Linked DNA regions of Homo sapiens. The protein of the gene in region 1 purifies or fractionates together with the protein of each later gene. This does not show direct contact. Each region holds a gene or a part of one and is shown on either strand. Other genes may lie near its edges. The genes, in order: ZNF283, DNAJC10 and HCLS1.

The links.
Region 2: the proteins of ZNF283 (region 1) and DNAJC10 purify together in Homo sapiens (co-immunoprecipitation; one large-scale study listed by IntAct). This does not show direct contact.
Region 3: the proteins of ZNF283 (region 1) and HCLS1 purify together in Homo sapiens (co-immunoprecipitation; one large-scale study listed by IntAct). This does not show direct contact.

The regions. Positions count from the first base shown.
Region 1 is NC_000019.10:43,825,978-43,830,227, forward strand, and holds the start of ZNF283 (zinc finger protein 283), read left to right. Parts: upstream 1-1,343; 5' UTR 1,344-1,467; intron 1,468-1,639; exon of another isoform or gene 1,640-1,713; intron 1,714-1,798; exon of another isoform or gene 1,799-2,004; intron 2,005-2,224; 5' UTR 2,225-2,304; intron 2,305-4,122; exon of another isoform or gene 4,123-4,240; intron 4,241-4,250. UniProt on the Homo sapiens protein: May be involved in transcriptional regulation.
Region 2 is NC_000002.12:182,729,688-182,733,338, forward strand, and holds part of DNAJC10 (dnaJ homolog subfamily C member 10 isoform 1 precursor), read left to right. Parts: intron 1-160; coding exon 161-254; intron 255-1,342; coding exon 1,343-1,420; intron 1,421-2,811; coding exon 2,812-2,855; intron 2,856-3,651. UniProt on the Homo sapiens protein: Endoplasmic reticulum disulfide reductase involved both in the correct folding of proteins and degradation of misfolded proteins.
Region 3 is NC_000003.12:121,630,784-121,633,937, forward strand, and holds the end of HCLS1 (hematopoietic lineage cell-specific protein), read right to left. Parts: intron 2,389-3,154; coding exon 2,284-2,388; intron 1,781-2,283; coding exon 1,549-1,780; intron 1,402-1,548; coding exon 1,318-1,401; intron 1,200-1,317; coding exon 1,063-1,199; 3' UTR 616-1,062; downstream 1-615. UniProt on the Homo sapiens protein: Substrate of the antigen receptor-coupled tyrosine kinase. Plays a role in antigen receptor signaling for both clonal expansion and deletion in lymphoid cells. May also be involved in the regulation of gene expression.

The DNA.
Region 1 (4,250 bases):
CATTGAGCAAGTAACATGGGAAGAGAGGAGGCTGCTTCCACCAGTGGTTTTGGAGGTGGAGCAGATGCTGATGATAATGAAGTCCCAGATGGGAAACGGGGATGGGTGCCGAGGAAAGCTCAAGGACCCTGCAGATGAGGACTCAGACCCACGATACTGGATGAGGCATCCATGTCACCATGGGAGTCAACCAGGGTAGTGGCCTCAGCTGAGGCAGGGGAAAAGCTGGGATCCAAGAGCTCTAGTCTTCTCTTGATAAGCAAGAGAGACCAGGAGGTGAGAGATGGCAGAGGATGAGAGAGGTGATATCAGTGACCAGAAAGAGCCCCTAAAAAGTAACTTCCTTTTCTTTCTGTTAGTTTTAATATAAAATTTCGCTTTAATATTTTTAGACAATTCTTTTTTAAAAAAGTATTTATATCCAAAGGTTCTTACCACACCAACCACAGCCCCAATCTTTTTGCCCTAACCTCAGAATCAGTTAGTTGTCTCCTTTAAAACCTTTCTCTCTCTCACACACCCACACACACACACACGCAAACACACAGGAGAGAGAGAGAGGGAATATATAGTATTGTTTTTGGAGTATGAGTGTGTGCTTCAGAATAAATGGTTTCATACTCTATAAAAAATGAGATTCAAATTTTATAATCCATCAAGTTTTATTGGAACACAGCCATGCTGGATTGCTTGTGCATTGTTTATGGCCGCCTTTGCACTGCCATAAGTCTCCACGGTCACAATATCCACTCACTACCACTTATTGTTGTCTTTCAACAGCGGCATATAAAATCTGTAACACAGTTCATCTCACACCTAATAAAACAGACTCACACAGGCATAAATTTAGAAAACATCCCATGAACATAAACAGGTCCACGCAGGGTCCCAGACACCGAATCGAACTAAGAAACTCCCTCACAGCAAGACACACCCATCTGTTCAATTGCCAGACACTGTTCCAGGCGCTCATACCCAGGTAAACTGGTAGTGTCGCGCAGGTCATTTCCAGCGAACTTACCCCGGATTCCCTTGCTCGCTCACGTCTAAGTCCCCAGACACCCCAGTCCCATCTTCGCCTGTTCTAGACTCCAGAATGCGTTCCTTAGCGAAAGCTGAGAACCTTTTAATTCGCTCTCAGTCAACACCAAAGACCCTCAAGCAAAAGCAAGAGCTCCCGGGCGTCTTCGAAAAAAGCGCCTTTGACAGGTGAAGCCAAGTTGCATGCTGGGAGCATCCCTGCTGTCCAGGTTTCAACTTCCGGAGACTCTGCCGCTGTGGACTACATTTCCCAGAAGTCTCCGGGGCACAGGCCTTTTAGGGGCGGGGCGAGCTTGCCTGCCAGAAGCTCCTCTCCCAGCCTGCGAGCATTTCCAGGCTCTTGTTTCCCATCAGCCTCTGGGTCCAAACTAACCACAGGTCTCTGGGTCCTTTTCCGGTGTCCTTAAGGTTCTTGGACTCTGCATGGTGAGTTGGTCGTGTCTGTAGAAGTAATCAGCCCGGGTGAAGCTGGGAGGGCTCGGCTGGCTTTACTGGGGCCCGACTGGAACCGGCAGTGAGGGTGGGGGTGGCATCGGGGGTGCTGGAGGTGGGGAGGGCTGGGTCACGGACAGAGCGTGTCGTGTCCGGATCCTCAAGCCTGTGTGCACGCGAGCAGCCGAGGGACAGTGTGTCTCAGACGGCGTGGCAGGGACGGGGCGTGTCCCCACGGAGGTGGGTGCAGTTGTGAATGTGTGACGGGCTGACAGGGTGCGTGGCCGTATTTGTAAATGTGATTTGCTTTGACCAAATGCTCTAGGTTCCCTTTAGCCTGTCTTCGGGCCTGCCACAATTAAATGACCGCAAGAAAGAAGTCTATGCTAAGCCCCATAATGAACGTTTCAAGCAAGAAGGATGAGAATTTTAGATCTGGAAGTGTCCGCGGGACAGGATCTTGTCAAGACCTGATGGGGAAGTTCTAGAGGTGGGATTCCTAGAAGAGGGGCCTCTAGGAGCTCTTTGGTGGTGAGCTACATGTTTCAGAGCCATTGCAAGCAGACCTCTGTCCCCAAGAATTGCCCTCAACACAGAGACAGACTCTAGCCTCCCTTTTCATTCCGTTTGGTTTTGTGTGGATGAAGGCAGAAGTGGCCCCAGAGGGTGTTTTGCTCTTCTTTTTCTTTTTTAATTAAGTCTGTGACGCGCTAGAAATGCTGATGTCTCATGTTACTGTTTTTTCCCCCAGTGCTGCCAGGTTGCCAGATTTCTAAGAAGGAGTTTGAAGAGGAGAAAAGGATTTTTGCATGTTTAGAAATCAAGGTTCAGGTGAGGTTTTTTATACATACTTTTTAAATACATACACATACAATTACCTTTGCTTCTAGGTCATGAGAACATTTTCTTTCCTTGGCCTGAAATATCTTGACTGGGTTTTCCCAGTTACATGACCCGCCATGCTGGTACATATTTCCTCCCAGTGGCCCCCTATTGTTCTTCTCCACAATTCTTACCCACCTGTTCATATGGCAAATTGTTCAAATACTTCAGTGCATTATGATGCACTGAAGAGTTATAGAAAGGCACCTCTTGTAGATTGCTATTAGAGCATTATTTTATACTATGATTATTTGAAGAGATTAGTAATTAGGTGGTGTTATATAAACATTATTTTTTATCTTTTCTGTAGTCATAATTAAAATTTTTTTTTAACTTTTTTTAGAGACAAGGTCTCACTCTGTTGCCCAGGCTGAGTGCAGTAGTATAGTCATAGCTCAGTGCAACCTTGAAGTCCTGGGCTCAGGTGTTCCTCTGGCCTTGGCGTCCCAAAGTGCTGGGACTGCAGGTGTGAGCCACCATGCCTGGCCCATAGTCATGATGCTTAAAGAAAGGCAAGGTATAAGGGATTTTAAGTAAGGGAATGTTTCTGGCAGTAAATGACAATGTTGTCTGCTTTGTGAGGCTTTTAGGGGTGGAAATATGATTGAGCTTTGAACATAGGGATTTGTAATTTGCACCAACAAGAGTGGGGACTTTCAGATAATCTTTAGATAGAAATCTGTAACATTTCCAAGCATGACTTGTTTGAAGTCCAGCTTTCTGTGGCATGTAAGAAGCCGTACTATGTTGTAGTTAAAAATAAGGCCCTGGGGTCGGGCACAGTGGCTCACGCCTGTAATCCCAGCACTTTGGGAGGCTGAGGGAGGTGGATCATGAAGTCAGGAGATCGAGAACATCCTGGCTAACACGGTGAAACCCCGTCTCCACTAAAAATACAAAAAATTAGCTGGGCGTAGTGGTAGGCGCCTGTAGTCCCAGCTACTCGGGAGGCTGAGGCAGGAGAATGGCGTGAACCCGGGCGGTGGAGGTTGCAGTGAGCCAAGATTGCACCACTGCACTCCAGCCTGGGTGACAGAGAGAGACTCCATCTCGAAAAAACAGCAACAACAAAAAAATTAAGGCTCTGGATCCAAAGTATCTGAATTCAAATCCTGGCTCTGCCTGTTGGTAGCTGTGTGTGCTTAGACAATTGATTCAGGCCCTCTGTGCCACATCTATAAAATAGGGACAGGATAGTACCTACCTAATGGAGTTGATATGATGTAAGATGAGATATTATATGTAAAGCTTCGTAGAGCAGTGTCATCCCCATGATATGGGCTTACTGAATATTGAGTTGCTATTATTGGGCTCTTCTAGATTATTTCCCATAAACTTTTTATAGATTAGAGTAACAGAAGTATGAAGTTGATTGTGACGGGTGCTTGCAAATTAACTAAAAAAGTGGGGGCTGGGCACGGTGGCTCACACCTGTAATCCCAGCACTTTGGGAGTCCGAGGCGGGTGGATCACAAGGTCAGAAGTTCGAGACCAGCCTGGCCAGCATGGTGAAACCCCGTCTCTACTAAAAATACAAAAAATTAGCCGGGCATGGTGGCGGGTGGCTGTAGTCCCAGCTACTCGGGAGGCTGAGGCAGGAGAATTGCTTGAACCCAGCAGGCGGAGGTTGTAGTGTGCCGAGATCGCGCCACTGCACTCCAGCCTGGGTAACAGAGCAAGACTGTCTCACACACAGACACGAAAAAGTGACCACATGCTCAAATGATCTAGGACAGGAACACTTTTTTTGTTTGTTTGTTTAAACAGGTTCTTGGCCTTTTGCCTAGGCTGGAGTGCAGTGGCATGATCATGGCTCACTGTAGCCTTGGCCTCCTAGGCTCAAGCGATCCTCCCACCTCAGGCTCCCGAGTACCTGGGACTACAGGTACGTGCCA
Region 2 (3,651 bases), on another chromosome or scaffold:
AGATTATCAGGATATCATTTGGAAATACATTCTGCTATTGAGAAATAGAGCTTTGCTGCATTATTCAAGATAATGTAAAAATCAAACTCTTTGGTATTATTTTTATTGAGTTTTAAAAAGAAAAAGTAAAAGATGTTTCTCTTCTTACAAAAACCAATAGGCCCCAGTGAAATATCATGGAGACAGATCAAAGGAGAGTTTAGTGAGTTTTGCAATGCAGCATGTTAGAAGTACAGTGACAGAACTTTGGACAGGTAATTTTATTTTCTTAATTTGCTTGATTTTCAGGGTATTTTGAAATCAGTATTTTGTTTTTAATGGCAATATTAACATTTTGGTCATGGTATTGAAATTTTAAAGTGTCTTTTCCATGTTTCTTAGAAGGGAATTGTGTCATTTACTCTGAACTCTGCTGAATTTAACAAACTAGTTAAATTTTTACAGAAACTTGAACTATCGAGATATGGGAAATGGATATGAGATAGGGCTACGGTAAAAAAGGCATCTCTCAAAGTGCAAAAAATGTTTTGTAATACAAGTGTTTTATTGCTTTTTTAAATATGCTTATCAATCAGTAAATTCAAACCTATTCTGTTTAATTTTAAAGTTTAAAAATGCTTCTAATCTTAGGCTTTTAACTCATTAACTGCCTTTAGGCAGATTAAGCTAATAATAGTATTTGTGGCTCAAGATGTTCATTTTATTCATTGAGTAAAGTTACGTGTCAGAAACTATTAAATAGTGGGGCTGCAGTAATAAAATATATAGTCCCTGCCATCAGTGACTTCATTAGTGAGGAAAACATTAGTAAACAATTAAAATGCAATATAGGTACTATTATTATAGAGCTTAAGGGAGCATAAGATGTGTAAAACAACCCAGTTGGGGAAAAGAGAAAGAGTTAGAAAATACTTCTTGAAAGAAGTCATATCCAATCTGTCATGAAAATGAATAGGAAGCCTTAGGAGATCACTGTGTATTTGGGGAACTGGCAATACTTCATGAATCTGACAAAAAGATCAATAATTGGGTCAAGTGGTGTGGGGAAATATAATATAGCTGGCTAAATAGGTAGGCAAAGCTCAAGTCACAGGGGCCTAACTTGCCAATTTGAGTTTTTTTCTTAATGAAATAATGAATTTAGGTTTTATATGATGAAAAAATTGGAGAGCCATTGAAGGAATTTGTCATACTCAAGAGTATCTTTGGAAAGATAACTGGTAAAACTCAGAGTGGATTAGAAGAGGGTGAGATTAGAAAGGAAAAATTACTTAGAAGACTGTTTCCATTAGTAAAGGAGTAATAGGTGATCAGAATTTGCTTTTTTTCTTTTATTTTTAAGGAAATTTTGTCAACTCCATACAAACTGCTTTTGCTGCTGGTATTGGCTGGCTGATCACTTTTTGTTCAAAAGGAGGAGGTAATACTATTTTTTAATTTTGTTGGAATGAGAACATGACATTTAAATTTTTGGTGACAGTTTTAAGTATGCTACTGTAATTGATTATTAAGTACTAGAAACTACAATTTATGCCCAGGATTACAATTTTTTTACTTAATGAATATTCGCCTTTTTCATTATTTTACACATGAGGTTATTATTCATTTTTTAATGTATCCTCTATGTTTTTATGTTCAGTGGACCAGTTTTTCAGCTTAGACTCATGATAAATTGTACCTTCAGATAGCCACAGATGTTATTTGACAATTTGCAAAAATAACTAGTTGTTTACAGCTCTAACCCCTCCCAAAATAATAATTTTTTGGAAATATGGACTTTGCTTCATGCTTATATATATCTCTCAAACATACATAGATTTGCCTCATACAATTATATACTTGAAGATGACAGCTTCTTCTAGGAACCTTTCCTTGAATAAATTAAGTTGAAAATTCAGTACTCTGCATAGCAAGCCGTAAACTGTAAACTGTGTTCAAGCAATGTGGTTGGTTAAAAATTGTTCTAAGACAACAAAATATTATAACTCAATGTATTTGCATGTATTTAATCCCAACATGAGTCTTCTCCCCACATTTCATCTCTCAGCCTTCATGCTGCTATATTGAAAAGGTACTGCCTTGTAACTAAAATCAACCCATTACCCCATCCTGTAAGGCCTATGCTAGAAAGACACTGCCTTGCAGCAAAACGTCAGCCTTAAACTTAACTAATCACCAAGGGATTTTGTCTCATTTTGGCCTATTGCCCAAATTTCTGTTCATCCACACATGAACAAAAGTTCTTACATTCTCTGAGATTCTTTTACTTCTCACCTCAAGTAAATTGCTTCTCCCTGTCTTTGTAGGCTCTGTGATGCTATAGCTCTCTTTCTTCTAAATCTTCTCTCATTGTATTCTAGTGTTCATATTTGCAGAACTTTCATAAAAATAGTGAAGGCACTATTTAAAGATTTTATTGTATTTTGAGGATCCTTTATATACTTCTATCAAATATCTATTACATTTTATTTCCCCCCAATTTTGAGATCTCTTGGATAAAATGGATTGTTGATAGGAGGAGAGATTGAGAGTATTAACCTAAAGAGAGAAAATTACTTTTTCTCTGTAGCTAGACATCCTAGAAATTAAAGGGAGAGAATGAAAGAAAGAGGGAGCGAGGGAGTGTGTGTGTGTTTTTGTGTGTGTGTTTGTATGTGTGTGTGTGTAGAAGGATTTCCATATCTATCAATAGAGTCCAGCTCAATTAATTGCCTTCGAATGAACATGGTAATTTGGGGGAAAGGCAAATGCAAGTATTTTCATCAGGCTTAATAAAGGTAAAACTGCCTCATAAGGTTTTTTTGTCCCCAGATTGTTTGACTTCACAGACACGACTCAGGCTTAGTGGCATGTTGGTAAGCATCAATCATTTTGTAAAACTATATCACCATGTAAAGAAACACATTTAGAAATTGATTTGAAACATTTTCTTCCCTTATTTCTTGAACATTTAACTCACCTATTTGTAATCTTATTTTCTGATGACTGTATTCATAGCTATGTGTTTTTTCCTGAATAATTAGTTACGTTCAATAAATTTTAACGTGGTATCAATTCTAAGTGTCATTTACTTTGTAAGTATTCTGTAATTTATAAGTTCCTCTTCAACTGAAGTTACATGTTAGTGTTTTTGTCATTTCCCAACTTTATCTTTTGTTGTTTTCTTTTTTAGTCATTTTTAAATGTATATAGCTCTCATGTTATGGCTGGGAAGTAGCCTGAGTGATGTTGATTTTTTAACACCATTGAAATACCCTTTGTGGCTTTGTGGCTTGACAAAGCCACACAAATTGTCAGTTTTGAAAATTTTGGAAATTCTTTGTGAGCTTGAATATAATAATGTTATGTTAGGTGTAATATATGTTAGGTGTAGTATTACATTTATTAGATCAGATTTATTAATCATGTTATTTGTTTTTGGACTACATGATCTATAATTTCTAAGAGGGATGTATTAAAATCTCTACCATCCATCATTGATTTATCTATTTCTTATATTTCTGTCAGTTCTTCCTTTACATATTTTGACATTATATTGTTGGCAGCAGTATGATCATTATATCCTTTGGCGGCTATTTATTTCTCTTTGTGCATTATGGATTTGTTTACACAAATTCTGTTTTATTTGATATTAAAATCACTAACTTAGTA
Region 3 (3,154 bases), on another chromosome or scaffold:
TGTGATCACAGCTCACTGAAGCCTTTACTTTGACTTCCCAGGCTCAGGTGATTCTCTCACCTCAGACTACTGAGTAGCTGGTGCTATAGGCCCACAATACCATGCCCAGCCATTGCTCAGGCTGATCTGTTTTGGACTGGGTTTAAAATGCAGCCTAAGGAGGCCAGGTGCAGTGGCTTATGCCTGTCATCCCAGCACTTTGGGAGGCTAAGCGGGGGGCGATCATCTGAGGTCAGGAGTTCAAGATCAGCCTGGCCAACATGGGGAAACCCCATCTCTACTAAAAATACAAAAATTAGCCGGGCATGGTGGTGCACGCCTGTAGTTGCAGGTACTCGGGAGGCTGAGGCAGGAGAATCTCTTGAACCCAGGAAGTGGAGGCTGCAGTGAGCTGAGATCACACTGCGGCACCCCAGCCTGGGTGACAGAGCAAAACTCCTTCTCAAAAAAAAAAAAAGTTCAGCCTAAGGAAAAGGCCTAGTCTTTGACATCTAGGGTACAGGGGAATTGGCAGTGGTAAGAGAAAGTTTCCTGGATATGCCTGGAAGAGGAAAGGTTGGAGCCTTAAGATTTGAGGCCATGAGGGCCACACAAAAAGTACTATTTACCTCAGCATACAGGTGAACCATAGTCTCACTTTATTTCGAATTTTAGGACTGAACAGAAAGAAGGTTCAGATATTTCTTCAGGGAAGGAAAGTGGGCAAATAGCACAATGAGGCAAACCACACAATCTAGACGTACTTTCCCGGGTAAACAAACTGGGAAGCCCAGAGCTCACAGAGGAGGAGAGCAGAGCTTGGGGTGGCAGAGAGGTGTTCATTGGGAAGGAGTCAGGAACACAAGAGAAATGTTCATGAGCTCATCCAGGATAGAGAGGACTCTTGGGGAAGGGGACCTCCTTCCCCATGCTGTCTCTGCCCCAAGCCCTTAATGAAGCAGGAGAGGGAAGTCTGTCCAGAACCTCATCTGGTTAGACATTTGCAGCAGGAATAGGGAGGGGGTGGAGGCAGAGCCACTTTGGACATGGGAAATCACAGTTGCAGTAGACAGTGAGCTCTAGTCACTCCAGAAGCTTGACATAATTTGCAGGGAAGAGTCCAAAGTGGCCATGGCAACGTCCCCGCCACCAGCCCTCGTCCACCATCTCAATGTCAGTGATTACGTCGTCCGGATCAAAGGAAAGCTCATCACTTCCCTCTGGGGAGAAAGTTGAGGGGATATTAGAATGGTCAGACATGAATCTCTTTTCACATGTCCCCCTGTCTTATATCAGGGGCCTCCATGTACCAGGCTCCTCGGGCCACTCCCAACCTACCTCCTTGGTAATCATATACAGCCACAGCTGAGATCCCCAGAGCCACAGCCCCAGCCCCAGCCCCAGCCGGGCAGCCTGATGATCCTGCATAATGAGAAACACAAACATGGGATCATCAACATGAAGAAGGCAAACAGAGAAAGATCCTACTGGGGCAATAGAGAAATTCTTCTTCCTCTTACCCTCCCCTGGACATGAGCAAATTCTCCTGCTTCTCCTCCCATCACTCACCAGCCAGAGCAGAAGAAAAAGAAGAATCTTCAGGCTCGAGCACCTCCTCATAGTCCCCCTCTGGTTCATCCTCCTGCTCATGCCTGTCCATCTCCTCAACGTCCTCATAGTCATTCTCAGGCTCGGGCTCAGGCTCGGGCTCAGGCTCAGGCTCTGCTTCGTACACTGGCTCTTCCTCCACCTGGAGGCCTTCCAGAGTCCTAGGGGGCAGAGCTGGGGGCTCCTCATTGTCCTGAGAAGAGACAGTGTGGAGCACTGTGACTTCCACTTTCCAGGAGGAATCAATGGAGGACTGATAAGATCCCCCGCCCTTCACCACCCTGCCTCTTCTCCCCTCTACCCTTGCCTCCATCTAACAGCCTCTCCTGGGGAACACAGCCTTTCATCCATCTTCATTCTTCAATCTCCTCCCACACCCACCCACCCAAAACACATTCCAGAGACAATGGGAAGAGAATGTAAAAGGTGTGAGGGGAGGGAAGTAGAAAACAAGTCAGATTCTTTGGGAGACCAAGAAAACATTGAAGCAAGAGCACATTGTTGAGCTACCACAGCTAGGATAATCATCTATACTAGTTTGCCCAGGACAGAGGAGTTTCCCAGAAGGCAAGGTCTTCAGTGCTAACACCAGAACAGTGCAAGGCAAACCAGGATGGTTGGCCACCCTGCACAGCCCACATTCCTAAGACTCGAGAAGATGGGGTGGGGGCAGAGAATCTTTGGGGGTTTGCTTACCTCCGGGAGAGTCTGCCTAATGGGCAGCAAGGGCACTGGGTGTTCCCTGCTGGTTCTCACAGGCTCAGACTCTGATGATGGAGGAGTCCCAACTGGAGGCCAGGCCTGTGGAAAATGAAGCATCTCTCAAGTAAGCAAGCCTCCATCTTCACTCCTTTTTTTTTTTTGAGATAGACTCTCGCTCTGTAGCCCAGGCTGGAGTGCAGTGGTGCGATCTCAGCTCATTGCAACCTCCGCCTCCCAGGTTCAAGCGATTCTCCTGCCTCAGCCCCCTGAGTAGCTGGGATTACAGGCACACGCCACTATGCCTGGCTAATTTTTGTATTTTTAATAGAGACAGGGTTTCACTATGTTGGTCAGGCTGGTCTTGAACTCCTGACTTCCTGACCTCGTGATCTGTCTGCCTTGACCTCCCAAAGTGCTGGGATTACAGGCATGAGCCACCACGCTCGGCCCATCTTCATTCTTTTTATTTTATTTTATGCATTTTTTGAGACAGGGTCTCACTCTGCTGCCCTGGCTGGAGCACAGTGAGATCATAGCTCACTGTAGCCTCAAACTCTTGGGCTCAAACAATCCTCCTCTCTAAGCCTCCCAAGTAGCTGGGACTATAGGCACACACCACCATGCCCAGCTAATTTTTTAATTGTTTTTATAGCGATAGGTTCTTACTATGTTGCCCAGGTTGGTCTAGAACTCCTGGCTTCAAGTGATCCTCTCACCTTGGCCACCTCAAGTGCTAGGATTACAGGCATGAGCCACCACACCATGCATGTCTTCACTGTTACATTTACCAGGAACACCCTCTCCCACTCTCTGCCAATTCAAATGGAACTCATCCCTCAAGATGGGCTCCAGCCTGAAGTGACGG